4 linked regions of the Homo sapiens genome follow. The protein of the gene in region 2 purifies or fractionates together with the protein of the main gene of each other region. This does not show direct contact. Each region holds a gene or a part of one and is shown on either strand. Other genes may lie near its edges.

The links.
Region 1: the proteins of ACOT7 (region 2) and RRBP1 purify together in Homo sapiens (affinity purification with mass spectrometry; 2 studies listed by BioGRID, with this or other methods). This does not show direct contact.
Region 3: the proteins of ACOT7 (region 2) and SART3 purify together in Homo sapiens (affinity purification with mass spectrometry; 2 studies listed by BioGRID). This does not show direct contact.
Region 4: the proteins of ACOT7 (region 2) and PPA1 purify together in Homo sapiens (affinity purification with mass spectrometry; 2 studies listed by BioGRID, with this or other methods). This does not show direct contact.

The regions. Positions count from the first base shown.
Region 1 is NC_000020.11:17,616,235-17,623,254, forward strand, and holds part of RRBP1 (ribosome-binding protein 1), read right to left. Parts: intron 5,714-7,020; coding exon 5,621-5,713; intron 5,540-5,620; coding exon 5,456-5,539; intron 5,314-5,455; coding exon 5,224-5,313; intron 4,574-5,223; coding exon 4,481-4,573; intron 4,137-4,480; coding exon 4,065-4,136; intron 3,495-4,064; coding exon 3,399-3,494; intron 2,446-3,398; coding exon 2,362-2,445; intron 606-2,361; coding exon 498-605; intron 1-497. UniProt on the Homo sapiens protein: Acts as a ribosome receptor and mediates interaction between the ribosome and the endoplasmic reticulum membrane.
Region 2 is NC_000001.11:6,278,750-6,285,769, forward strand, and holds part of ACOT7 (cytosolic acyl coenzyme A thioester hydrolase), read right to left. Parts: intron 2,538-7,020; coding exon 2,353-2,537; intron 1-2,352. UniProt on the Homo sapiens protein: Catalyzes the hydrolysis of acyl-CoAs into free fatty acids and coenzyme A (CoASH), regulating their respective intracellular levels.
Region 3 is NC_000012.12:108,537,174-108,544,193, reverse strand, and holds part of SART3 (spliceosome associated factor 3, U4/U6 recycling protein), read left to right. Parts: intron 1-1,041; coding exon 1,042-1,166; intron 1,167-1,349; exon of another isoform or gene 1,350-1,382; coding exon of another isoform or gene 1,383-1,424; intron 1,425-5,104; coding exon 5,105-5,260; intron 5,261-5,990; coding exon 5,991-6,129; intron 6,130-6,598; coding exon 6,599-6,706; intron 6,707-7,020. UniProt on the Homo sapiens protein: U6 snRNP-binding protein that functions as a recycling factor of the splicing machinery. Promotes the initial reassembly of U4 and U6 snRNPs following their ejection from the spliceosome during its maturation.
Region 4 is NC_000010.11:70,230,411-70,238,416, forward strand, and holds the start of PPA1 (inorganic pyrophosphatase), read right to left. Parts: upstream 3,020-8,006; 5' UTR 2,918-3,019; coding exon 2,854-2,917; intron 1-2,853.

The sequences.
Region 1 (7,020 bases), on a different chromosome or scaffold from region 2:
ACAGGACAAGAACGATGCCTCCGAGCCCTGGCCCCATGACAACCCCCTTAACAGCCACACCATGGCCACCCCAGGGACAGGCCCTGCCTCTTGGTGAGGACTCTTGGTGGCTATTGCCGGGCTCAAAACTCTGGAGAGCGAATATCCTGCTAGCGATGTCCCAGCCGGGGTTGCAGTGGGAGACAGTCCCCTTCGATGGCTGCAGACCCTGCCCAGAGCTGCTCCTGAGCCCTGTAGGTGCAGACCCCAAATCACGGACTCCCTCTTCGAGTCCCACCTCCCCCCAACTCCTCCAGCCTCTCCACCTGGCCACCTTTCTGTTCCATGCTCTGTGGCTTTCTCCGAACCTGGATGATCCAAATGGGGCAAAGCAGGGTGGGGTGGGGAAGCAGCGGAGGCTGGAGCAGCCAGTGCGGGGTTTAGTCCGAACGGAGGCAGCAGGGCCTGCACTCTTCTGGGATTAGTGATGTGTCTGGGGACCAGCTCACCGCCCTAACCTGAACGGGGTCCTGCTCGGCTGGGGGCGCCTCTGGGGAGGAAGCTGGGGCCCCAGCTATGTCACCATCCTCTACGTGGCTCTTCATTTCACTCAACTGCTGCCTGACCTGGAACAGGAAGGGGTGTGTTTGCAAATGCACAGCCAGTCGCACACCCACCATGCTCACTCCTGCAGGGACCCCCTCGGAGGACCGTAGCTGCTCTCAACAGCCAAAGTCCCTTCAGGGGACCTGGCTTGGTAACTGTGACCTATGTCTGGCCACCCCCGCCGCCAACCTGAGCCAAACCAAGGCCACCAAGCCTCTGGGCTAATGAGACCCAATGTGCTCTGCTCCAAGCCCAACCGGAGGGGAGCCCTCCCTGGGAGTGAGGTGACCCCTGATGGGCATGGCCCACAGAGCAAAGGAATCCGAATGGAACCGGGGGGTGGCCGCCACACTGTCTACACCCCCCGTTTCTCCTTCAAGGATGCAGTCCACTGCTCAGAGCCCTTTCCGGGGTCTAGAAAAGATTATGAGATAACATTCTTGCCTAACAAGGTCCCCCACCCCTACGCTCCATCACTGGGGTTAGGTGGCATATCTGGCTGCACCCAAACCACTGGGCCTGCAATTTGAAGGGCAGGTGTCACTCGAGAGGCTCAGGTAGAGGTTCCAATTGGAGACCCAGGTGGGGCCCTTGGCATAAGCTCCCCAGGGAACATGGGCGGTCTCTGACCCTGCGCTGAGGGGCCACCCCAGGTACGTGGGAACCCCAGACATTCTTCCCTCCCTCTGAACAGCCCCTCCCAATGCAAATAACGAACTGCACAGCTGGAAGACAACAGAAACTCCAGGGGGTTTTCTCTGCACATCCCCGGCCTGGGCCATGCCCCCGGGGCCTGTCACCCAGACTTCGCTCAGCCAAGGCTTCAGTGAGTGGCCCCTAGACACAGGAGGAGACCTGGCCTAGGCAGCACTGCCCTCTGGTGTTCTGGTCCGGGTAAGACCTGAATGACCAAGGGGGACCGAGGGTGTTGGGAGCGTGTGCCGGACTCACTGGCTGCTGCAGGGGGAATGCCAGCCCATTTTTATTTAAAATTTCCCAATTTCTCCCTGTTGACAACTAATTCAAGATTTAAAAAAACACCGCAGATCAAACAGAACATGTCTGCGGCCTCACAGGGTGCTGCTCACAACACCAGCCTTGGGGCGGTACCAGATCCGGTGAGGCTGGGTGGAGCCTGCCAAGGAGCTGGGACTTGGCATCAGACACCTGAGCTGAACACCAGGAGGGACTCAAGAGGCCACCTGCACAGGCAGAGCTCCAGTGGTCTGCCAAGGGGGCTGCTCTCTGCACCCGGCAGCTGGTATGGGGCCGGGCGTGGAGCAGGTCTTCCCTGCATGCCTGTGGCTTTGACTGAATTGATCTGAGCTGTCACTGAGGTGAGAAAACCCACAGAAGGCACGGGACTTGCTGAGAGCCCCAGGGCGATGGGTGGCCAGGCCAGGAGGAACCCCCAGGCTTCCTGGTCTTGTGATGCCAGGGACTGCAATATCCCTGACGCCCCCAGGTGACTACAATGGGCTCACAGGGAATGCAGACGCCCAGAGCTCTCACTACCTTGAACAGGGGACCAGGTAGCCAGGGGACGGGAGATGGAGTGGGAGCACCCTGGTCCCAACAGCCACAGGCCCAGCTCAGAGTTCTGGGCAAATGTGCAGGAAGGCCCCCAGAAGCCGGCCCCATGCTGCTCAACGGGTGACACTGTCCCTTCCCTAGGCTTTATCTTTGAGTGGACACAAACGCATGACTGGCAAATGCATCTCACACACGCAACGCCCCAGGTCACACTCCTGGCATGGGGACATGGAGGCCACCTACCAGGGCAAGCTCATCGCTCTGTTTCTGGGCTTCGCTCTTGGCGGCATCGAGCTGAGATTGAGATTCTAGGAGAAGTTGCCTCAGCTTGGGGAGAAAACAGAGGCGGGTGATGGGAAAAAAGGAGAGAAAAGGAGAAAACCAGTCCCCGTGAGTTAGCGCCGAAACATAAAACCTAACACATCCACTTAACCAAAACCCTGAGGAGGGTCACAGCATCGGGCCGGCACAGGGCTCGCCAGGCTTCCTACAGCTACGATTTCTTTTTTGAGGACTTAGGAAGAATGGTGTTCACTGCGTACCTCTTTCAGGCCTTCACAAATGTTTACTGATTATCTCTGGCAAAAAAGGGCCAAAAGTTGGAGATGATTTTTTTTTTCAGAGATGGTCTCAATCTGTCATCCACGCTGGTCTTGAACTCTTGGGCTCAGGCAATCCTCCTGCATCAGCCTCCTAAGCAGCTGGGAACGGAGGTGCCCACCAGTGTGCCTGGCTTTTTTTTTTTTTTTTGGTAGAGATGCGGTCTTGCTATGTTGCCCAGGCCGGTCTCAAATTTCTGGCCTCGAGCAATCCACCTCAGCCTTTCAAAGTGCTGGGATTACAGGCATGAGCCGCTGTGCCTGGCCCAAAAGTTTGAGATTAAACCAGAATTGGGATACTGGGCTTGTGCTTCTGCTTCTGAAGAGCAGAAAAAGTGTCAGATCTAAATCCACTCCCCACCAGATATGACATCAGCAAGCCAGGCAGAGAATCCCCTTGCGGAGGGATAACCTAGAACGTCAAACGCCTCCCTCGGGGCAGGGCTGCCTGGCTCTGCCCCTGTCCTGGCTGGGAGGCTGCCTTTTTGAAACCTGCCCTGAGAGACACCTCAGGCCTGACAGCCCAACGAGGGGCCTGTGAGGCTTCGGGCAAACGCCTGAGGACTCGGACTTCAAGGCTTATGTCACCGAGAGCTGCTCCCACAGGGCTGAGGAGAAGCAGCTCAGGGAGGACCGCAGATCTGCTGGGCAGGGGCTGCACTCCTTGGGGGGCAGACTCACCCCTGCCACCTCCTTGGCGTAGTTCTGGCACTCGGCGCTGGCGGCCGCCATGTGCTTTTCCAGCTCTGCCTCCAAATGCGACGTGTGCTCCCTCACCTGGACAGATGCACAGACACGCACACGCATGCGCCAGCAGCCTCTGCTCAAAGGGCACTCACCTCAGGGAGCAGGCTGGCCCTGGGATAGGTGAGGCCTCTCGGGAGATCCCTGAGGCCCACCAGCTACCAAGCAAACGAGAAACTAGTCCGCGGCAAGAGAACCCCTTACGGAAAGTGGCAGGCTGCACCCGGGCACTCCTGGGGACTGACATGCTCTTAGATTTACTTGCAAAAGCAGGTACCAAGGGTACCTTCTCCAGGGCTCCCTGTGGCGTCTGAAGGGGGCAGTGGGGCCACCTTGACTGTGAAGGCCGTGGCAGAAGCCCTGTTCACCAGGGCTGGGCAGGTCTGCACAGGGCCCGTGGCTGGGTCTCAGGGTCCTCTGAGGTAGTCAATGTCTCTCATTAAGGAAAAACAGGATGGACAAGATCCCTTGGCTTGAGAGAGAATGCCTCTCTTAAGGCACACGGTCCATGAGGAAGAAATCAGTGAAGTGTCCTCTGCATTAACGTCACTTTCAAAGAGGCTCCCGGGACAAGAGAAAGAGTTCTCTGAGCAGAGCACATACCTGGTCCGAACTTTCAAGTTCTCCTTTTAGCTTCTCTACAATCTCTTCGAGATGCTTCACTGTGACCCGGGACTACAAAGCAAGGGGAAGGCTCCGTCAGACACGAGCACCTGGGGGTGTCTCCTTCCGAGGCCATGCTAGGACCCGAGCGGGACTGACCCAACTTAGGAAGCCCCGGGGGTGCCCACTCCGCCCAGCTGGGACGGTCACCCTGGCGCCATCTGGCAGTGTCTTCCTAGGCGGGGGCCTCCTGGAGGACGGACTGAGCTGTCATCCCGCAACTGTGCTTCATAGGGTGTCGTGGAAAAGCCCCACCGAGACACACGAGTCTCACAGGTGACAGAGACAATCCTGTCAACTCTCCCCTGGGCTTCATGTGCTCCACGGCGCCGGGAGGCAGGCAGGGCTGCATATACCTTCTGGAGCTCCTCCTCTGCGGCGCCCACCTTGGCCCTCCACACCTGCTCCTCCTCCTCCACGCTCTTCTGCAGGTCTCTGAGCATGCCCTCCTGGGGGGAAACCGAGGTGAGGCAGGGCCCTCTCCCTCCCGAGACCCGCACCACACAACCGCATCTTCCTGTCCCTGCAGCCCTGGTGACCTGCCGTGCTCCGCCTGCTGACTTCATGAGCGCCAGCGTTAGGTGGGGAGGGAAGGCAACCACTGTCCTGGGAGGGAGGTCCTCTGGCCAGTGGGCCAGTGTGGCTGCAGTGCCAGGCAAGGAAATGAGGTCTGTGACCTGCACAGGACCACTAGGATGCTTGTTACTGCCGGGGTTTGCCACCAGCACCAAGTGTGTCAATGGCCCAGGACGAGGAGCACAGGATGGGCTGGCCAGAGAGTGGCAGGGCTAGACCTGGCATTGCTCTTAGTCACAAACGGGGTTCAACCTGGCAGTCACCAGCTGCTTACCCCGTCCTTCCCCTTCCCCAGCTTAGAGACCGGCCCCGAACCTTCAACTTGGCCTTCTCTTCAGCTTAGAAACAATGACGACCTCAGAGGGTGCCATCCATTTACCATGCAGCCGAAGAACGGGGCCCAGAGTCACAAGGCCAGTGGGCTTTTCCAAAACACCAGGCCACCTCCTGCCCCATAGGCCCCGAAGCTCTCCTTCCCTGCAGCCTCCCAGGGATGCCCAGCTGACAGGTTCCCAATGCTCACCGTCTCCGCCAGGATGCTGCGGTACTGGTCACACTCGGCCTGCAGTGTGCTCTGCGTCTCCTCGGCCTCCCTCAACTTGGAGGCCAGGTCCTGAGAGAGGGAAGAACAGGTGTTTAGTTAGCCACACACAAAGGTTCTTCTCTTGGCTTCCCGTTGAAATGACTTGGGGCAGCCCCTCTTCCTGGGGACAGGGGAGCCCAACAGAGGAGCCTTGCCAGGCAGCCACACTTACCGAGGAGGGCTCCGCGGGAGCTGGCGGGTGCTTCAGCAGCGTGGGGCCTTTCTCTTTGAGATCCTGCAGCCACTCGGTGTAATTCTGCAATGAAACACATTCGGTGAGACCCGGGGACATTCCCTGAGAACTGTGAGGTCCCCGGGAACCACCCTCCCCTCCTACCTGTTGTGCCAAGACAGAGAGTTCTGGGAGCAGAGCCAGCAGGGCCTCCATGGTCTGCGCCTCAATCAGACAGAGCTGCTTCTCCGATTCCTCCTGGGGGGTGGGTGGGGAAGAGCGGAAGGTGTTCAGCTGTGGAGGTGTGGGGCACCTCCCCAGGTCTTTACTGATATGCCCGGGTCTCTGCCCCAGAAAGGGCACATCCTCAGCTCTTCAGGGAAGCGACAAGAATCAAAGGAGAAGATGAGGCTCCATGGGGCTGACTGTAAGCAGAGGGGTTACCCAGCCTGTATCTGGTCCATTTCAAACAGACTAAGCTCTGATGAAAGGAGCATACTGGGTCAGGCCAAGATGGCAGGTGCCAGCTCCCGGGACATCTCCCAGCAGGGACAGTCTCCACCAGCTCTCACTTCCCGAGCTCTCTGGGCATGTGTGCATGTGTGGGGGAATTTGGGGGGTCCGCAGTTGATGTGTGAGAGCCAGGGCAGGAAGAAGGGATGGGAGGACACTCATGGCCCCCAATGTTTTGGAATCTAGAGCTGTGATGGGGATGGGGGTGAAGGCAGGGAAGCAGTGCGTCTGCTGGCGGCACCACGGTTAGGGGCTAGTGGCAGCCAGGAAGGGGCAACCCAGAGAGGCTCATCTCCAGCCACCCTGGAGAGGGTGGATCAGCATTCCCCCTCTGCAGAGGGAGAAGCCCACTCAGAGGAGACAGGGACTTTGCACCCTGTGCCATGCTGGGTCGGACACCCCCTCAGTCCTCAACGAAGAGCCAGCGGCCCCCATTCAAAGCACAACAAAGATAAGGAAACAAAAGGAAACAAAGGGGGCCCAAGGGAATCATGAAGCAAAGCCTAGGACCACAGTGTCCCCCGGGAGAGAGCTGGGCTCTCCCACACCCCGAGGGGAAGGCTGCTGGGGTAACAGCCTGTGTCTGGCCCTGCCACCACCTGGACAGGCCTGGCCTAAGACCCAGGGAGGCCCCAGGAACTCCACCTGGATCAGAGCTGATGGAGTGTTAACTCCCCCAAGCAGAGTCCTGGAATGTGCATGAAGGATGCTGACCACCGGACACCCAGCCTGAGCGCAGCGCCCTCTGGCCTGACGCACACCTGAGAAGCGGGCCCTTCCTGGCTGGCCAAGTTATCCACAGGTAGGGCCCGTGACCCATGTGGACCCTTGACCTCACGACCACCACTGAGGCCTCTAGTTGTGAGTCAAGGCAAGCTGGAGACCCAGAGGCCACCTTCTATCTGGATGTGTGACCACAATCAAGTCAGGTGACATCTCTGGTCACAGCTTCATTTACCACATGGTAGCCAGACAGTCTCTGAGGTCACTGGGGGCTACAAGGCCAAGATTCTAGGAGTCTAACTATAGCTCTCACAGGGTGGCCTGAGGCC
Region 2 (7,020 bases):
ACCGTGTGGTGGCCGGGGAGGCTGGAGTATCCCTACAGACACTACAGGGTCCCCCATCCAGGGAGCGCAGGCTTCACTGAGGGCCTGGTCAGCTGTGCTACAGACAGGGAGCGGACAGCAGACAGGGCGTGTCCTTGCGTCTGTCCATGCTGCCCGCAGAGGGAAGACAGAACTGGGAAAGTTTGTCCAGGAGGCAGGAAGAGGTAGGGGGCGGGGAAGGAGAGAGCTTCGGAAATGTGCCTGGGTCAGGTGGGGGATTCAGCATCAGGACAGACAGCAGCCACGCTGAAAAGCGTCATGGGAGGGGCGTCGGGTCCATGGGGAGAGACCAGAGCGGGCCCAGGTGGGAGTGGAGCCCATACTTCATGGCCGAGAAAAGCAGGCAAGTTTGGAGAAGGCGTGTCCAAGGTGAAAGGAGAACCAGACACAGGGCTGAAGGTCAAGGACAGAGGAGGCTGGAGCCTCATAGCAGGGTCAGGGGCTGAGGAACGACTGCGGACCAGCCCAGGCGACGTGGAGGGAGGACACCATCCTGCCAAGGGCCGATGGGTGGCACGGTGGGCCAGGGCAAGGCGGGTAGGCTTACAAGTAAATGGGGAGGGGTGGGGGCAGATGAGGGAGGAAGGAGCAGGCAGCAGAGCCAGCCCTGATGGGGCAGGAGGGTGGCAGCCTAGGGTACTTTGCCACAGAAGAGGCTGTGGGGCTGAAGGCATGGAGCAGTCCTCGCACCAGAAGGGGAGCATGCCTCGTAAGCCCCAAGTCAAAGAGGGGCCTGGTCACGAGAGTCATGCAAGGGTGGGTCACAGGCATTGTGTTAGTGCCGTGCTGGGGGCACCCACCACTCACTTTCCTTCCTTTCAGCCTGGCCGAGTCCTCCTCATCCATCAAGTCCAGGTTCACCATCAGCTCCTCTACTCAGCCCACCCGACCTGGGAGAGGCCGGCACCCAACTCCAGCGAAGAGCTGGCCTGGAGTTGGCAGCGGAGGGTACTCGCTGGGCCTGACAGCTCACACACCACACCTGGCGCTACCACCACGGGCCCTGGTGAGGCATGAGCTCCTCCACTCCAGGAAGGGGCAGGGCTGGGAGAGGGGCTTGGAGGGGCCTCAGCCTCGACTGGGAAACAAAGCAGCTGGGGCGACTCGGCGGCCCTCCTCAGCCATGTGGGGAAGCGACAGGCCGTGCTCCAGGCTCTGAGAGGAATGGGTTTTCAGTGCATGTTCGCCCCAGAGATTTCAGTGCACGCTCCTCTCCGGGAGGCTGAGCAGCAAATGCTTGCGGATCTGCGTGGGGAGCAGACGCCGCGGGGGCAGGGGCCTCGAGAACCTCTGGAATCAGGGGTCAGCCTCGCAGGGCCGTGGTGCCTGCCTGGCCACTTCCATGAGAACGCCAGCTCCCAAGAGGCCTGCGGGCACCCGCCTGCTCCCAGCTGCTCTGTTCCCGCATCCTCGCTCCCCGGAGGGGCAGGAAGCTCCTACAGCTCTGCTTTCCTCTTGCTCCCCTCAGTGACAGACACAAGAGCTGGTTCAAAGAGAAATCAGGACCACCCCAAAGGCTGCAGAGCCCCTGGGGTCAGCCAGGATGGGGAACCTCTGTTCTTATGACAGAGACAGGGAAGCTGCCTCTTTGGGCCGCGCGAACCCTGTCGATGTCTGTGACCCTACAGAGTCCATGCCAGGCGGAGAACCACCAGCTCTCAAACGTGGCAGAGCTCAGGGGATGTGGACACCTGGGGGCAGCAGCCCCTGTGAACGAGTGCGTGTGGCCTGCACACGCCCACCCCACCTGCCCTGCATGAGGAGGAGAAAGGCCAAGGGGCTGGGACCCTCAGCCCAGAGCCCACCAGCCTGGCTTGGTCTCATCAGGCAGGACCTGCAGGCCAGGACCACCTGGAGGGAGCCCACCCCTCCAGCTTCCCAGCAGGCCCTTCAGCAGAGGATGGGGGACCCAGGGCACGGTCCTCATCCCCCTCCAGCATTCTTACACAATGCCAGGGAACACCAAGGCGCCACACTCAGAGGCGACCTGGACGCCCAGGCAGCAGCCATGCTAAGGCGCTCTTAAAGGGGTCTGTCTCTCTTGTCCTGTCTGCCCAGCCCCACCCCACGGGCCCTGGGAGTACAGCCCAAAGGCCTACCCGCTGGTTATGAAGCGTTCCTTCTCAAGGCCTCACCGGATCAGCCCCGCAGCCCGAGGTCACCGGTCACGGCAGTGGCCAGGCCCAGCCCTACTCTGACCCCTACTGACAGGACAGGACTCATGCAGGCACAGATTCCCCCTGGAGGCCCAAACACAGGGACCCTAGGGCTGCCTGGCAGGGAGGGGCCGCCGTTCCAAGGATGCGCACTCACCACCAGCTGGGGCACAGGCAGCGACCTGCCTTCCTGGCTCAGCGACACGTAGGTGAAGAAGGCACTGGCGGCCCGGTAGCGCTTCTGAGAGCTGTCCACAACAGGGTCGGCGTCCACCAACACCTCGATCTCCATGGACTTATTGCTCGTGAAGGTCATGCGTCCCGAGATGGTGATGACGCAGCCTGTGGAGAAGGGAGGGCGGGGGTCAGGGCGGCCTCCACCCCACGGCTGGGCGGGGGACACTGGCGTTTCTGTGGTCAGCAGGCAGACACTTGGTTAGGGGAAGCAGTGGCTTGGCTGACTACCAGATGTTCAAATAACAGAATATTAGAATGTGTCGTTAGTTGCCCATGAATGTTTATCTTTCTAGTGAGCAGGTTTATCTACGCTAAAATTCAGCACTGAAGGATTTTGGTGGCCATGAGTTCAAGCCCCCGCCCAGGCGGGCTCTCTCCTGGCCGGGAGTGGCAGCACCTGCTGAAAGGCTTCAGAGCCACTGTGCCCCCACGGGGGAGGCCGCAGACTGCCTTCCAGGAGCTGTGGGTGTCGGCTGGCTCTGCCCTTCCTTAGGTCAGGGCCAAATCTGCAAACTGCACTGTCCATTCATTGGCCTTGCTGGTGCCCACCGGAGCCACAGCTGCCCCACTACACTGCTCCAAGCACCAAGACAGAACCTTGTATCACCTTCCACAGCCATTCCCACCCTCAGGGGCTCCAGTGACACAGGGCAGCTGCCCGTGCCCCTTGGTGGGATTGAATCTTATGTGACTGCATGCCAAGCCTCCCTTCTGGCCCCACTGGTCTCGCCCACGGGACCAAAGCTTCCTCCTCTGGGCTGCTGGATGCCACACCCCTTGGCCAGAGTCCTCCATGCTCAAAGCACCAGCCCCATTTCTCTGTGAATCATGACAAAGTCCAAAGTCACCAGTTCCCATACATTGTTCCCATGTCCCTCTCTCCCCCTCAACCCTAACCAACCTCTCTGTACGCCCCACGCTCCCCAGGGCACGACAGTCCATCCTGGCAGAAGCTTCCTGACCCAGAGCTGCTCTTCTGCCCCCACCACCCTCCCCGGCCTGGGCTCCATCCTCCTACCTGGCCTCAACATAATCCCTTAATCTCAGGGAGCTCAGCTCTTCCCTATAGGCAGGCATGAGACACCCTGCCTGGGGGATAGCTACGGGATGGAAGGACTCAAGCCAAGAGCTGACCTGGGGCCCCGGGAAGGTGTCACCATCGATGTCACTGGCCACCAGGCTGCAGAAACCCCCGGGGACTTCCGGGGCAAGTGCTGCCCTGCGGTCAGAATGCCCTCCCAGGCGGCCCAGCGTGGCCTCTATTCTGGGCCAGGCTCAAGGATATCCCTGCCCGACTCTGGCTGCTGGGACTTGCTCCCCAGGAAATATATCTGGCTTCGGGGACTTTTTAATGTGGCCTCTGGAACCCCCAGTGTCCTAGCTGCACCGAGACCAGCCTCACAAGGCAGGTTTAGAGACCCAGAGTGAGAAAGCGGCCAGGTGGTGGCTGTTGGAGGGCGGTTAGCAGGCCAGAGGCAAGAGCGGTTATTCCATGTTAAAAAGTATCAGAACGATCCATGCTACATTCAACTTCATACTTACAGGGAGCACTTCGTGCCAGTGCTGGGAGAGGAGGAAGGAGCTGTGTGGTCAGCGCCAGCAGGCATTACGTGAGCTGTAAGGTACAGAGTCCCATGCAAAGCGCCCGCAGTCACAAGACGCACCCCGGGAGGAGGGCAGGCCATGGGTCAGGCCCCAGCTAAGGAGCTAGAAGTTTCAACAGGTCAGACCTGAGGGTCTCCCAGCATCTCTGCCTCCTTCCTCACAATGCCCAGCCCACATCCCTCACCAACAATTGTGTATAACACTTGGGAGTCACAGGCCAAAAAGCAGGAACAAGCCCTTTCCATGAGCAGAAACCAACAAGAACTTCCCTGTGGCCACGGTGTCACACACGGGGGCCACCCATGAGCGTGGTGCCTGGAGGAGGGCAGGTTCCAGGGGTCTTTGAACACTGGCTCTTAGTTTTGAGGAGCAACAGAAAACGTGTTTTTGTTTTTGAGATGGAGTCTCGCTCTATTGCCCAGGCTGGAGGGCAGTGGTGCCATCATGGCTCACTGCAACCTCTGTCTCCCAGGTTTAAGCGACTGTCACACCTGTCACTTAAATAGCTGGGATTACAGGCGTGCACCACCATGCACGGCTGATTTTTGTATCTTTTGTAGAGATGAGGTTTTGTCTTGTTGACCAGGCTGGTCTAGAACTCCTGGCCTCAAGTGATCCAACTGCCTCGGCCTCCCAAATTGCTGGGATTATAATTAGGTGTGAGCCACTCCGCCCAGGCTCCAAAAACATGCTCTTGGTGTTGCCCATGAAGGCCCACCTTGGCCACTGCTGCCACGGCCAGATCCTGGCTGCTCATGGCTTAATTGCTGTGTTAGAAATCTGAAGAAACTCCTAACAGCAATCAACAATGACTTTAAACAACTAAGTAGGTTGATTATAAAAGCATTAGACGTAACAACAAAAAGAAGAGAATGCTGTCTGGGAGAGCCTCTTGTGGTCCATAATACAATTAACACTTCATAAATGTCAGGAAAATTTTCAATTACAACCAAAATCTGAGAATTTTCACCCTTCAGAGAGCAACATCATTATTCTAAACAAGACACAGGCTATAAGGTTGGCTAGCAGGACAAAGTGAAATACTTTAAAACTGGAAACCTAACTGGATATAGTGGCACACGCCTGTGGTCCCAGCTACTCGGGAGGCTCAGGCGGGAGCATCGTTTGAGCCCAGGAGGTCGAGGTTGCAGTCAGCTGAGATCGCACCACTGCACTCTAGCCTGGGTGACAGAGCAAGACCCTGTCTCAGAAAAAAAGAAAAAAACTGGAAATCTGATGTGGTCACTGGCTGGGACTTAATTTGAAACCTAGGGTTGACAGACGAATCACAAGTCCCAGTCACCAAGAGAGAGCCCAGTTTCCAGGGGCCCTGGTTTAGGGTATCCCATCTCCTAGACCCTGGGCTCAGAAGGCACATCCCACACATGACACCAAGGTCTCACAGGCAGCCTCTGGGAAGGGACTGTCCCAGGGGACCTCGGGGGGACCAGCTCCCACCCCCAGGGCTCTGTTCCTGCTCTAGCCCTTCCTGAAGAATTCCAGCTACAGACCGGGCGCAGTGGCTCATACCTGTAATCCCAGCACTCTGGGAGGCCGAGGCGGGCTCATCACTTGAGGTCAGGAATTTGAGACCAGCCTGACCAACATGGTGAAACCCTGTCTCTATTAAAAATACAAAATTAGCCGGGCATGGTGGCACATGCCTGTAATCCCAGCTACTTGGGAGGCTGAGGCAACAGAATCGCCTGAACCCGGGAGGCGCAGGTTGCAGTGAGCTGAGATCATGCCATTGCACTCCAGCCTGGGCAACAAGAGCGAAACTCCATCTCAAAAAAAAAAAAAAAAAAAAAAAGAATTCCAGCATTCCAGCTACAGGCACTTTGTCAACCCCAGGATGGCGGCTGAGGCGCACACCAAATCCTCTCCGCCTCCTCCAGGTCACATAGAGGCCCCCCTGCAGCATCGAGGCCTCCCTGGGGACGGAGGTCCATCCAGGTGGGGTTGGGGTGATGAGCGACTGGCCTCAGCCTCTACAAGGGCCCCTAGCCTGCCCCCTGCTTTCCACACCCCACCAGAGTGGCCTTCTGTGAGCTCCCTGAAGCTCCTGGCCCCCGTGGTCTCTCCCTAGAAAAGCCCTCCTCTTACAGCTATCTGGTTCATCTTCTGAACCTCGGCTCAAGCATCCCTTCTCCAGAGAGCTGCCCAGGGCGGCTCAGCCCCCTCCACCACACCCCCTCTAGAACTGTCCTCCACTCCTGCAGAGCCAACGACCCCATTTGCATTGGCACACTTGTTGGCTTGTCTATTTCACTGTTGTCTGTCTGTCCCCATCTAGCCTGGAAGTCCCACGAGGGCAGGGCTGGGCCCAGGGGGCCCAAAGCAGGTATCCAGTTGACAGGCTGGACCCCTCTGGGGACCCACGAGGGCTGGGGTGTGGGTCACATGTGGACACCAGGTCACCACAGACTCAAGCTGGCCAGAGCCCCATTAGAGCCCCAGGTTTGCATCCTCCTGAAGTGGATGCTGAGCAGCCCAGAATCAGGAGTGCCCAGGAGCATGGCCAGCAGCCCCTTCCAAGCCCTGCTGGCCGGTACTTCCTTCCAGTCTCAACTTCAGTGCCACTCCTGGAAGCAGCCTGCCCTGGAGCCCCACACCTGTCCACCTCCCTTCCTCCCTGCAAAAGGGTGGAGAGCCTGGGGGCAGTCACGTGCTGGCCGTCACCTGCCCACGGGGCAGCACAGACTGATTCCGCCCTTCCTGCTAATTCCTCCATGGCGCAGCCATGTGCTGTCATTCCTCCCACTGGGTCAGAGCCTGGACCATCCAGGCTGCCGGCCAAATCATGACCATGCCCACAGGTCCCTCCACCAAATGTGGAGGCGGGTGAGGCTGGTCATGCATCAGAGAGCTGAAGACAGCGTGTCCAGGTGGCTCTCGGGAGCCCTGAACCTGACAGGAAAGGCAGAGGCAGGGCCCGACAAGCACTGCCTGCAGACCTGGCGTGTCACACGGAGGTCAGGAT
Region 3 (7,020 bases), on a different chromosome or scaffold from region 2:
CCAGGTGAGAGCTCTTTTCTCCTTTGAGACCTAGTTGGAAGGGCAGAGATAGGGTCTCTGAAAGGAATAGTGAATGACACCTGTATTTTTTGGGGAAACTTCATTGAACAAGAGTTCCATTATAATCATTTTCTCTTCACAAGTAACCTCTTCCATAACAGCAGGAATTTTACATGAGTTTAGATCATTCCTCTATGGGAGGGATTTGGTTCAGAAGTGCAGTTGATTGGAAGTACTCATAAGTGAGTTTCTTGGGGTTTGGTAAAGAGTTTCCTTATTTGGTAAATACATTTTGGCAATCTAAGCCTTTGAGTCTTTGGAGCTATGAGTGTGTGCGTGCTGGGAGGATTTTTCTGAGTATGGGAAGAGTTTGTCATGGCTGTTGTGTTTGTTCCCTAGACACGGGCATGTGTTGTACATACTCAGAACCTCTGGGCAACTTTACTGGAGCCCACATGTTATTTCTCTTCATGGTTTATTGGATTTAACAAGTTATAAAGTAGTCGTCTAATCAAATGGTTGGGTATCATGCAGAAAACACTAGAGCTGAGCCGGCTTGCAGATTTCACCTACCAGCGTGAAACAACCTAGCATAATGATTAGAGTGCGAACTTGAGCCAGACTGCTTGGGTTCACAGCCTTGCTCTACCATTAACTGTAGACGAGCAACTGAACCCTCTGCTTCAGTTTCCTCAACTGCAAAATGAGGATCACAATAGACTACCTTGTAGAGTGGGATGACTGAATGAGTTAGTGGATGTGAAGTGGTAGAACATAGGTAACACTGGGTAAGTGTTGTTAAATCGTTGCCACTAGTGTCATTGACTGATTAATTAGCTGGGAGGGTTGCCTGGGACATTGTTTTAAGACAGATTCTACAGACAGGTTTGGGCTCAGCAGAAATCAGAATTTGATCAGTAAGAGCTGCCATGCCACAGATGTGGGAGGGGCTAGTGGCACCTGAGTCTCATGGCTTAATCTGTGTTTGGGTTGATAAAGCCCAATGGCAAGACCCACGGGGCTGAATCCATCTTTCAATAGATATGGAGGCCACATTTGCAGAGTATGAAGAATGGTCAGAAGACCCAATACCAGAGTCAGTAATTCAGAACTATAACAAAGCACTACAGCAGCTGGAGAAATATAAACCCTATGAAGAAGCACTGGTAAGTGTTGGCTTCTTTTATAGTAAACGTCTCTCTACAAACCTTTCCCTGATGGATAGTTGCGAGTTAAACAGTATCTTTAAAATGTTTTATTCTGAAATATATAGAGTGTATAAATGTATACGTACAGTTTACATACTAATAATAAAGTGAACATCCATGTACCTACCACCCAGGTTAAGAAATAGAACATTGCCAGTACCTTAGAAGTCTCCTATGTGCCCCTCTCCGATTGCCTCCTCCTCCCTCTCCCGAGAGGTAATCACTTTCCTGACTTTTGTGATGATAATTCCCTTGCTTTTCTTTATAGTTTTACAAGCTATGAAAGTATCCTTAATTAATATATTGTTTAATTTTGCTTGCTTTTGAACTTTTATATATTGGAATCATGCTGTATATTTTATTTTCATTGAACATGCTTTTGGGTTTTACTCATGTTGCTAAGTATAACTCCGGTGCATTTGTTTTCACTGCTGTAAAGTTGTCTGTGTACTGCGATGTATTTATCCATGTTGCTGGATAGTTGGGTCATTTCCAGGTTTTTGCTAGGAGAAGGAGCAGCGCCACTCTGAACATTCTTGTGTGTATCTCCTTGTACACATGAAAAAGAGTTTCTCTAGAATACGTACTTAGGAATGACTTTGCTGGATCATAGGGTGATGTTAAAGTGTTTTCCAGGTTATCAGTTTGCACTGCTGTGAGCAGTATCTGAGAGTTCTCGTTGCTTGTGCCAATCTTGGATATTGGTCATACTTAAATTTTACTTAATTTGATGAATTTGAAATTGTAGTTTTAATTTGTATTTTCTTGGTTACTAATGAAGTTGAGCATCTTTTCACGTGGATTGGCCATTCAAATTTTTGTGCGTGTTAAAGTGTTCAGGCTGGGCACAGTGGCTTATGCCTATAATCCCAGCACTTTGGGAGGCCAAGGCGGGAGGATTGCTGGAGCCCAGGAGTTTGAGATCAGCCTGGCAGCGTAGCACAACCCTGTCTCTACCAAAAAAAAAAAAAAAAAAAAAAAAAAAAAGCCGGGCTTGGTGGCATGTGTCTGTAGTCCCAGCTTCTCCAGAGGCGAAGGTAGGAGGATTGTTTGAGCCCAGGAGGTCAAGGCTGCAGTGAGCTGTAATCATGCCACTGCATTGTCACCTAAGTGACAAAGCAAAACCCTATTTCTTAAAAAAAAGTCTGGGCCGGGCGGGGTGGCTCATGCCTGTAATCCCAGCACTTTCGGAGCCCAAGGCAGGTGAATCATGAGGTCAGGAGTTTGAGACCAGCCTGGCCAACATAGTGAAACCCCGTCTCTACTAAAAATACAAAAAATTAGCTGGGCATGGTGGCGGGCGCCTGTAATCCCAGCTGTTTGGGAGGCTGAGGCAGGGGAATCGCTTGAAGCCGGGAGGTGGAGGTTGCTGTGAGCCGAGATCGCACCACTGCACTCCATCCAGCCTGGGCAACAGTGTGAGACTCCGTCTCAAAAAAAAAAGTCTTTGACCCATTTCCCTTTTGATGTATCTTTTTTCTAATTGATTTGTGGGAGTGCTTTGTCTTAAGTCTTATTTTAGGCTGTATGTGTTGCAGATTTTCTCCCCAGTTGTTTGTCTTTTCACTTCTTTTTTTTTGAGACTGGAGTTTCGCTTTCACCCAGGCTGGAGTGAAGTGGCGTGATCTCGGCTCACTGCAACTTCCGCCCCGCCAGGTTCAAGCGATTCTCCTGCCTCAGCCTCCCAATTAGCTGGGATTATAGGCCCTTGTCACCAAGCCCCGCTAATTTTTGTATTTTTAGTAGAGACGGGGTTTCGCCATGTTGGCCAGGCTGGTCTCATACTCCTGACCTCAGGTGATTCACCTGCCTCAGCCTCCCAAAGGGCTGGGATTACAGGCGTGAGTCACTGCAACTGCCTTTTCACTTTTTTATTTTTTAACAGTGTCTTTTGATGAACAGTTCTTAGTGATCAATTAGATTAAAATTCTTTCCCTTTTGGTTGTGCTTTTGTTGTGCTTATTTAAAAAATATTCCCTACTTAGCTCTAATTTCTTCTAAAAGTTTTATAGTTTTCTGTTTCATATTTAGGCCCTCATCCACCTGGGATTGATTTTTGAGTGGTATGAGACTGCGTCTGGTTTCATTTTTCCATATGGAGAACCAGTTGTTCTAGTACTGAGTTTGATCATTCCTTCTTCCCCTCACTGATGTGCAGTGCCACATCTGTCATAGATTAGCTGTCCATTTATGTGTGGGTCTTTCTTCTGGATTTTCTGTTCTGTCCCACTGGTTTATGTTACACTGTTGTAATGATGAGAGTTATAATGTTTTGCTCTTGGATAGGGTGAGTCCCATCCACCTTTTTCCTCTTCAAGAGGATCTTGGCTTTTTTTTTTTTTTTGCCTTCAATGCTTCCATCGGATTTAGAATCAGCTTTTCTAGTTATATTTTTAAAATCTTTTTTTTTTTAATTGGAATTGCATTGAACCTGGAGATCAATTTGGGGAATAATTTACATCTTCCAATCTATGAACATATATAGGTTTCTGCTACTTATATCTTGTCTTTCTGTAAAGCTTTATAATAATATTATAAATTTGTCCAGTGTCTTCAACACTTGACCTTTAGAGTCCCCTGCAAGGGAGATTTGCTGGTAACAGATTTTCTGTGTTCAAAAAGGTCTTTGCTTCCCTTCTTGAAAATTATTTTCTTAGGCTATAGAATTCTAGACCGACAACAGCAAAAGAATTCTAGACGGACAATGTGTCCTCTCAGCAATTGATTGTATCTTTCTGTCTTCTGATGTCTGTTGTTGCTGTTGAGAAGTCAGCGGTTTGTATAAATCTTGCTTCTTCAGAGGTAGTCACTTTTTTGTCTGACTGCTTTTAAGATCTCATTGATTTGGTTTGCTGTCCTCTAATTTCACTGCAGTAGGTCCATGTGTGGACTGGCTTGAAGTTTTTTGGGCTTCTTGACTCTTTTTTTCTATCTTTCTTTGCCAACAATAGGATTGTGAAGGTCAGATTCTTAATATACGTCAAGCCAGCAAAAGGTTAATGTTTACTTAGCTTGCCACCCTCATTTAGATTTTGTCCTTAGTCCTTAGTATTTCTTGTTTCTTTGCCAGTTTGTTGATGACTTTTAAGAAGATATTATATTTAATTTAGCAGTTTTAGTTGTTTTGAATGGTACAGTGTGTCTGGGTAACTAATTCTTCCTCGTTACTGGAAATGGAGGCCCTGAAACATCCCCTTTCTACATATGGAGTCTGTGTGTTCTCTTACTCTCCTGCACTGCTTCATCCTTTCTTTTTCATGTGTAAATGATTTGCATGTACCTGTGCTTCCCAAAACTTCGATCATTCAATTATGTCATGGCCATCAGCAAAATGTGCCTGAAGAGAAAACATGTCGAATAAGATTTTTTTCTAAAAAGAATTTGATTGTATGTCTTTGGATCATTAAACATTCAGCACAGCTGCCTTCATCTTCTGCATTTATCTACATTCTTCCAGGAACTGATATTTGGAATAAGAAACCTGAAATAGCATCAGGCACCAAAATTTTCCAGTTTGGTTGTATTAACTCTACTCAGTAGCCCAAGAACATGACTTCTGGTTTGGAAGGGTGGTTGACAGTGGTCACTGGCAAAGGTGTTGCTCTTTCACTCAGTTCCTGATTGATGGGCTACTTAATTCCCTGTGGTCTAGGAATGGATTTAGAAAAGAGTTTATGGAGCCTTTGTAGCGACTGCCATGAACTGGCACTTTGGACCAGATGAGAAGACTCTTGTTTTGCTCAAGAAGTTGTAGAGGCCATAGTGGAGTGGTTCTGAGAGTGAGGATTTGGCGATTCATAGTTACTGTAGCCAGTTTTGCCAAAATTTATTTTATTTGCAGATGTGTTGTGCTTCCTGCCAGTAACTAAATTCAATACAATTTTCCTGTACTCCAGTTGCAGGCAGAGGCACCAAGGCTGGCAGAATATCAAGCATATATCGATTTTGAGATGAAAATTGGCGATCCTGCTCGCATTCAGTTGATCTTTGAGCGCGCCCTGGTCGAGAACTGCCTTGTCCCAGACTTATGGATCCGTTACAGTCAGTACCTAGTAAGATCACTGTTCTAATTTCATTTTATTTTTGCCAATTTAGAATCTACTTAAAATCAGTAAGAGTGCCAGGAGTTTGTTGCATACGGCCCTACTCTTGCTTTTCCTCCATCTGCTTTTTCTCCTCTTTGCCAACTCGTTTAGAAAGTTTTAGTGTTTCAAGTTATTTAAAAATGGTCACTAACTGTAAGTAAAATGAGCATATTGTCTGTGTTGAGGACTTATAACAACTTGATATTTTTCTTTTAACTTTTTATTATGGCAAAAATGTAAACATATAAAAGTAGACAGATCAGTAAAATGAAACTTCTGTACCCCTCACCCAGCTTCAACAATTAGTAACATTTATAGCTTTAGTTTACTTTGATCTGTAGTCTCACCTACTTGTCCCTTCTGTGTTACTTTGAAGCAAATCCAGAAATGATATTTCGTTGGTAAATATTTCAGTATGTGTATATAAAATATTTCAGTGTGTCTGTATAAAAGGATCCAAATGAGGTCTATCCAGTAGGGTTGGCTGACGTCTTTTAAGGCTGTTTTAACCTGTAAGTTGCTCCTCTCCTTCTCCTCCACTCCCCTTAGTGATTTTTTTGTTGTTGTTGAGGAAACCAGGTCACAAGAGATGTTTATAAGGACATTTCTTTCATCACTTGGTCGTGCTGGCAATGTCTTGTTGATGGTGAATGCTTAATAAAGTGTAATTTCCTAACTCTGGAATTCTTTATCATAGGATCGACAACTGAAAGTAAAGGATTTGGTTTTATCTGTACATAACCGCGCTATTAGAAACTGCCCCTGGACAGTTGCCTTATGGAGTCGGTACCTCTTGGCCATGGAGAGACATGGAGTTGATCATCAAGTAATTTCTGGTGCGGATGTTTTTGTGGGAGAACTTCTAAGCTATTTGTCCCAAGTGAAAAACAGAGAGCGGTGACAAAGTCATTACATCAGTGTTCCCTGGGGTTTTCTTTGGGTTATGGAGTGTAGTGACAAAAAGGGCTCTGAGTGAGAGATGAACTGGTTATATTTGTGGCTTCTTAGAGCTTTTTAACATGCTAATATTCATTGTATTTTCTAAGAAGTTGTAGTGTTTTCTCCAAACTTCCTTGATCTGGAACTTTTCTTGCAGGGCGTCTTGTGGAAGAAGTTTTTTCTAGAACACAGTCTGTAGAGTGCTGTAGCAACTTCTGTCTTCAACATTCCTGTCTAGCTCATTTCATTCTGTTGCATCTATTAGTCTTTAAAGTCATGTAGTGTTTTATAGTCAGTAGAATGTAGTGACTTTCTATTAGTTTCCATTTGAATTGGTAACAAATCCTGACTTTTCTCCAACTCCAGTAACCTTCGAGAAAGCTTTGAATGCCGGCTTCATCCAGGCCACTGATTATGTGGAGATTTGGCAGGCATACCTTGATTACCTGAGGAGAAGGGTTGATTTCAAACAAGGTATTTAAGCACATGTTTTTCACTTTAGAGCTGAACATGTTCTTAATACAACTTTTGGCGAGATGTCCCAGTTCCCCAGATACATTGTGATTGGGCAAATGATGTAGACTAGGTATTGGTGACTTTTTCCCCCAGAAATCTTAGCAATTTCTGTCTTTAACAAGTCATGATGTGGATTGTAAAGCAAGAGAGTAATCGTTTATACTGGCTCCTGCCAGCCTTTTTAGTCTTAGCTCTCATTTCTCCTTTCAGGTCTTTTTATTTATCCTAAATACTTCTTGAAATAAGTCTGCTGTGTTTTAGAAAAATCTTTG
Region 4 (8,006 bases), on a different chromosome or scaffold from region 2:
ATTAGAAAAAGTTATTACTATAATTAATTGTATTGCTAAATGCCCACAGTACACATTTTTTTTTTCTGAGATAAGGTCCCTTACTCTGTCACCCAGGATGGTGTGCAATGGTGTGATCTTGGCTCACTGCCACTTCTGTTTCCCTCTTGAAGGCTCAAGTGATCCTCCAGCCTCAGCCTCCTGAGCCGCTGGAACTACAGGCATGAGCCACTACGTCTGGCTAATTTTTGTGTCTTTTGTAGGGAGGTGGTGTTGCCATGTTCCCCAGGCTGGTCTCCAACTCCTGAGCTCAAAGCAGTCTGCCCACCTCAGCCTCCCAAAGGGCTGGAATTACAGGGGTGAGCCACCGCACCCTGCACCCGACCAGTACACATTTTTAAACCAAGATATTATTCTTACACTAGAAAAACTGTTTGTATACTTCACTTCTCCTGACTGTACTCCCAGGCTAGGCTGGGTTTACATCCTATGCACTCTGTAGGCATCTAATAAGTACTAATCTCTATAGTGAGAGCAGAGACTACTGAGGACACAAAAGGCGATTAAATTGTTTTGGACTGATCTTACATCAGTTAAGTTTACAGAACCATTATGAAGTACTTGGGAGGAAGGGAGGGGACCACTTTACTAAACAATGTTGCTAAAAGTGGTGTTCCCAGAGACAGCCAGCCATCTTAGATTATGACTTTCTTTAAGGATAATCAAGTTGCAACAAACATCTTCACAAATAATTTCTATTATATTCTAGATATATATTACTAATATATTCTAGAGGCCTAACTATAGCCAAAAAGTAATTTTAAAACTTCTTCAGTATTCTTTAGGAAACCTACTGTCCACATCGCATCCCTTCAAGTTTAAAAATCAAAGTGGAGGCCAGGCACGGTGGCTCACGCCTGTAATCCCAGCACTTTGGAAGGCCAAAGCAGGTGGATCACTGGAGGTAAGGAGTTCAAGACCAGCCTGGCCAACATGGTGAAACCCCGTCTCTACTAAAAATACAAAAATTAGTCAGGCATGGTGGCAAGTGCCTGTAATCCCAGCTACTTGGGAGGCTGAGGCAGGAGAATCACTTGAACCCGGGAGGCTGAAGTTGCAATGAGCCAAGATCATGCCACTGCACTCCAGCCTGGGCAACAGAGCGAGACTTTGTTTCAAAAAACAAACAATAAAACATAAAAGTCCCTTTAGGGCCAATTGTGACTTTGCAGTCTGTCCAGCCCTTTATCAGTTTTAAAGAAATTGACAAATGTAATATTATAAAGCTTAAAAAAGTTTATTTCTATTAAGGAAGGATAAAGCACTTAAAATTGGATAACTATGTAGTGGGTTCTAATTATTAGTATTTCTTAAGTTCCAGAGAGTTCCACTTGATAAAAACAGTTACTTCAGCTAGTGCCAAATTCTAGGAGTAGCTTTGGTCTCCCATAACGGCCACCAAATATTAATTGCAAATAAATAACCTAAGTAAAAGCAGTGTGTTTGTTCTGCATATATAGCTTGAAGATCCACCCCTCACCTTCAAACCAGACAGTCACCTCTGTAAGCCTTTCCTACAGAGAAATTCTGGAGCCAACACTATTTCCAGAAAAACAGTCCCATGAATTATTAGTCAAAAGTTACTGGACTGTCCTTGCTGCTTAATTGCAAAATTAAATAAAATGGAGAGTGGGGGGTAGTTCTCACCCTTCCTGGATTTTACCTGATAGTTAACCTTTGGCTAGATGTGTAAGCTTTACAGTTCGCTTTCCTTTTCCTCCCGCACCAGGCTACTTTTTGTTCCTTCAATGCCTATTCATTCGTCTCCTCTACTCCCCGCTTCCCCTTCCTTCATACACCAACTCAGAGTTCGAGGCACCTGCCCATTTCCTTCCAAATAAAACTGTAAAGAGGTTACAATAGAAGCGCCTGTGGTGACACATTTACGAACGCCTCCGTTATCGCCCATAATCTACTCCTAGTAGCTGGGGGTGGGGGGAGTAAGAGGATAAAGAAAAACCCCAAGTAGCTTTCCTCCACCTACAAGGCCAAAAAAACGTGGTGCCCTAAGGAGCGTGGAGGGCGCCAGCATGCAGCCTCCCGGTTTCCCCGTGCAGCCCTAGGTGCAGGACCCGGGGTAGGTACCCCCTAGACGCCGAATCCTGCAAAGGTAAAAACTTGGCACTTTCTCAGTCTTGTTTCCAGACTGACGTCATCTGTTTGATTTGAGGGAAACAGCTTTCTGTTTCATAAGGAGCATTCCCAGCATCGGCGCTGAGGGAAAACAGGCGGCGCAGAGGCAGGAGCACGACCGGGCCGCGGAGGACCGGTCCAGCGCCTTCACAGACGGCTCCCGATCCGGGCCTCAGTTTTCCCGTCTGTAAAACGAGGGGGTGGACTTGGCTCCGCTCAGCGCCGATAATCTGAGCTACGGCGGCGGAATTAAGGTCTTTAGGAAGTCACTGCCCCCCCCGGCCCGGAGTCGCCTTTTCTCCAAACTGAGCAATCCTCTTACGGGAATTATGTTACTTCCAAGCACCTTTCTAGGGTGGGTCGGTGATTTCCTTTTCCCAACAGACCCTGTCAGAGCCAGACACCTGCAAAACTAGCTGGGCCCAGGTTCGGGTACCCCGAGGCGTGACAAAGGGACCATCTCCGTTCAGCGGGGAGGGATGGCCGGAGGCGACCCTCGCCGCCCCGACCGGCGGCGGCAAGTATGCAATGTGAGGCCGGCCAGGCCCCACAACGCGCCCGAGGAGACGGGCCCGCGTCGGAGACCTGGGGCCGAGCGCGGGCCGCACCCTCCCGGGGAGGCAAGGCCCGGGAATGAATGGGCGGACGGGCGCGGAGGGGCCACGGGCCGCAGACACTCACTGAGGAAGACTCGGTACTCCAGGGAGAAGGGCGCGGCGCGCTCCTCGGTGCTGAAGCCGCTCATAGTGCCGGAGTCCTGCCGCCGCCGCTGCCACAGAGCCACCAGCCCGCACGCGGCGCCGACTGACAAGGAGAGAGCCCCACGCCTGCGCACTGCGAGCACTGGACCGGCGGGCGGGGCGGGGAGCGCCTTTAACGCGGCTCTGCTAGTGTTCCCACCCCCGCCGGGCCAACCCCGTGCGCAGGCGCACTCCGCCAGGCCCGGGTGTCCGCACTCCCCAGCCCCGCCCCTCGGGCCCAGCCTCCGCGATGGCAGCTAGGGCTCAGAGGCTGGGCCACGTGGCTGCCGCCGGCGCTGGTTCTGTTCCTTCGGCTTTGGGCTCTGACCCGGGAGGGCAAATGCGCAGGCTCTAAGCTTGGACTAGCTAGGAGTTGACCGCCGACCACGCACACAGGGAACTCACCTTTGATTCTCACACACTCCTCCCCGCAGTCCTATTCCTTATCTCAAAAGGCGTTGATAAGTCACCTGCTTCCCCAGACAGGCTCTGCTTGCGGTCTTAAAGGTGAGCATTTTTCTGATCCGTCGTAACAAAGTTGAGCCATATTACTGACACCCCTAGTGGCTACTAGTAAGGTACTCGCTTCTCCACTTTCTATAATCTCTCTCACTCCGTTGCTTATCTGGGAAGTGAAGATAATAATATAACTATTTCATGAGTTACTGGGATGATTACCCGAGTTAATACACGTCAAATGCCTGAAGCAGAGCCTGTATCTTTGTAAACAATCTGGAAGTTGTTACTGTCACCCTCCCCAGTGGGGGAGGATTTACGCCCCCGCGCCCCCCGCCCCCTCCATCCCCCCTGCCACCCTACTTAACCCACCTGGGTCTCCAGGGGCTTCAGATGGAAGCACTGGGAAGGTCCAGGCGTGAGCTAGAGTCCCGTGAAGGAGTGTTCTCAGGGACAGGCTCTTCTGATCTTGATTTCCTGTTTATATTCCATCATATCAGGCCAGACCCCAAAAACTAAAGTCTGATTGAGGCAGTGGGAAAATATTTGCATCACTTACCTCCCCAGGAATACATGTAAAAGAAAAAAAGTATATCCACAATCCTAAATATAAATTAGCAAATTATTATTCACATTTCAAAGAATGCCTGGTTTTATTTATTTATTTATTTTAATTTCATGGCCAGGATTTCTTTAAATAACTTTTTCTAGAACATTAAAGATAATGTGCCTTAATGACATTTTGAATTAAACCCTTTTTTCCAAACAATGTCTATTGTAAAAAATGAATATTAAATGAAAACCTAGTAAGATCTCCAGTTAGTTATGGTGTCGCTCCCTTTGTCTCCATCCAACTCCCAAACCTCACTGACACCCATTAATTTTCAGAAGGCTGTGATTCACTGATTTTTTGAACATTTCACCACACTGTTTTACTGCTGTTAAAACAGAAGGGCAGGAAAAAAAATTAGCGAAGCAATAGTTTAGTCAATAATTAGGGTCAAGGCCAGGCGCGGTGACTTACGCCTTCAATCCCAGCACTTTGGGAGGCCGAGGTGGGCGGATTACCCGACGTCAGGAGTTGGAAACCAGCCTGGCCAACACAGTGAAACCCTGTCCCTAGTAAAAATACAAAAATTAGCTGGGCGTGGTTGCACGCGCCTGTAATCCCAGCTACTCGGGAGACTGAGGCAGGAGAACACTTGATCCCGAGAGGCGGAGGTTGCGGTGAGTTGAGATCACGCCAGTGCATTCCAGCCTGGGTGACAGAGCGAGACTCTGTTTCAGAAAAAAAAGTAGGATCAAGTTCAAAGAATATTTTAAGGGGATGCTCTTTTGATTGAACTGCTCTATCACTTTTCTGCCTTTGAGCAGATGGAACCAATTTTCTTGGAAAAACCCAGACTCTCATCTGTGACTGACTTAAGAAGACAGCAGTGATGCAATAATAATGTTCTACATACACTTTCCCTTTGCCTCCTGCCAGCTCAGAGCAAGATAATAAAGTCTCACTGACCTCCAGACTTGCACACTGGCTCTTGTTTCATCGAATGTATTCAGAGAGCCAGTCATTATCAGGTCTGGTAAAACACCCAGCCCTGGTGAATTGTAACTTTCCTTTGCAGGCAAGTGTAGTGAGCCCATAGGCCCAAAAGGACCTTGGTCTACCATGTCTCCCTAGGGCCTAGCACAGTACACAGCCTAGAGTAGATGTTTAGTGAATCTTTGCTGGACGGATAGGTAGAGGAATTAATGTAAAGGTGGAAAATACCTTCTTAAGTACATTAGTTTGACAAAGAAGGAGTCCATCTCTTCTCAAATATTATCTTTCTCACTCAGTGACCAAATCTAGTGGCACTTTTCAGTCCATATCCTGTCCCCTTTGCTGTGGGTGACCCTGTTGGGTGTCTCTAATTTCCTTCTTTGGCTTGCGACTACATTCTCTTCTTTTTTTTTTTTTTCTTTTTTGAGACAGAGTCTCACTCTGTCACCCAGGCTGGAGTACAGTGGTGTGATTTCGGCTCACTGCAACCTCCACCTCCCAGGTTCAAGTGATTCTTGTACCTCAGCCTCCTGAGTAGCTGGGATCACAGGCATGCACCACCATGCCTGGCTAATTTTAGTATTTTTAGTAGAGATGTGTTTTCATCATGTTGGCCAGGCTAGCCTCGAACTCCTGGCCTCAAATGATCTGCCCACCTCAGCCTCCCAGAGTGTTGGGATTACAGGCGTGAGACACGGTGCCAGGCCACGACTACATTCTCTTCTCGTGTTCTTCCTACTTCTTTTTTTTTTTTTTTTGAGATGGGGTCTCGCTCTGTCGCCCAGGCTGGAGTGCGGTGGTGCGATCTCGGCTCACTGCAACCTCCGCCTCTCGGGTTCAAGCAATTCTCCCGCCTCAGCCTCCAGAGTAGCTGGGATTACAGGCGCCTGCCACCACGCCCAGCTAATTTTTTGTACCTTTAGTAGAGACCGGGTTTCACCATGTTGGCCAAACTGGTCTCGAAGCCCTGACCTCGTGATCTGCCTGCCTCGGCCTCCCAAAGTGCTGGGATTACAGGCATGAGCCACCACGCCCGGCCCATTCCTACTTCTTTGCTACTCATTTCTCATTCTCCTTCTCAGCCTTCATTTCATCATCTTAATCATCATTGTCTTTCTTATTTCTCATGTTCTCTCTCTCTCTCTAGAGCAATACTCTTTGTCTAGATTATCTCATGTATATCTCTGGCGTCAGCTACCACCTAGAGGTCCTATAACATGAAAACTTTCAAATCTATAACTAACTCTTATTTAACACTTACTGTGGTCATGCTCTGTGATAGGTGGGTAGGGATGTAGCCCTACTAGGCCTTATAGTCAGAACTTATAGTCTAGAAGAAAGACAGACTTCAACAAATAATTATAATAAATTTGGGTGAGTAGAATGATATAGGAAGTACAGGGCATTACATTATGGGAGCAGAAAACCTCTTCAAGGAAGTGACCTGTAACCTGCAATCTGAATGATGACATGGAATTAATAAGGCAAAGGGGACAAGGCAAAAGCCAGAAAACGGTTAGGTGAGACTAGGCCGGGCGCGGTGGCTCATGCCTGTAATCCCAACACTTTGGGAGGCCAAGGCCGGCGGATCACGAGCTCAGGAGTTCGAGACCAGCCTGACCAACATGGTGAAACCCGTCTCTATTTAAAAATATACAAAAATAAGCTGGATGTGGTGGCACGCACCTGTAATCCCAGCTACTCAGGAGGCTGAGGCAGGAGAATCTCTTGAACCCAGAAGGCAGAGGTTGCAGTGAGCTGAGATCACACCACTGCACTCCAGCCTGGCAACAAAGCAAGACTCCGTCTCAAAAAAAAAAAAAAAAAAAAAAGAAAGCGGTGAGACTAGAGAAATAGTCAGGGCCAAAAGCTAGAAAGCCTTGGAAGGCACGATATGAGGATTGAACTTTCTCCTAAGAGCAATGGGAAACTTAAGAAGGGTTTTTAATGGGAAAATAACATGATCAGAATTGCATTAAGAAAAGGTACTATCAGCAGCTTAGAACTTGGATTGAGGTTTAGTAAGACTAGAGGCAGGGAGACCAATGCAGTCCACTGCAGGGCCCCAGATGAAAGGTGATGGTGGTTTCCTGAACTTGGGCGGCAAAAGAGAAGGCTGATTACAGAGCTGTGTTCAAGGTAGAATCAATGGAATTATTGATTGAATAGTGTGGAAGAGGAGAGAGGTGGAGATCTGAGGATGAGTCCCAGGTTTCTGGCTACAAGAACTGGTTGAGTTGAATGGTATGTCATTTACTGAGAGAGAGTGGGTGAGATGGAGGGTATTAATACCAAACACTCCTAGCTCCCTGCCCAATGGCCATATTACCTTCTCTTTTCTAACAGAATCCTGATTTTGTTCAAGAGACTGGATGTGGTGGTTCATGCCTGTAATCCCAGCACTTTAGGAGGCTGAGGAGGACGGATCACCTGAGGTCAGGAGTTCAAGACTAACCTGGCCAACATGGTGAAACCCCGTCTCTACTAAAAATACAAAAATCAGCTGGGCGTGTTGGCACGTGTCTGTAATCCCAGCTACTCAGGAGGGTGAGACAGGAGAATCGCTTAAACCCAGGAGGCAGAGGTTGCAGTGAGCCAAGATCACGCCATTGCACTTCAGCCTGAGCAACAAGAGCAAAACCTCTGTCTCAAAAAATAAATTAAATAAAATAAAAAGAAGCCACTCTCCTGCGCACACCTTTGCCTCAGGGCAGCCAGCCCTTCCTTCATCTTCATGAAATGAAGTTTTTTTTGTTTGTTTGTTTTAGTATTTATTGATCATTCTTGGGTGTTTCTCAGAGAGGGGGATGTGGCAGGGTCATAGGATAATAGTGGAGAGAAGGACAGCCGATAAACACATGAACAAAGGTCTCTAGTTTTCCTAGGCAGAGGTCCCTGCGGCCTTCCGCAGTGTTTGTGTCCCTGGGTACTTGAGATTAGGGAGTGGTGATGACTCTTAACGAGCATGCTGCCTTCAAATATCTGTTTAACAAAGCACATCTAGCACCACCCTTAATCCATTTAACCCTGAGTTGACACAGCACACGTTTCAGAGAGCACAGGGTTGGGGGTAAGGTTATAGATTAACAGCATCC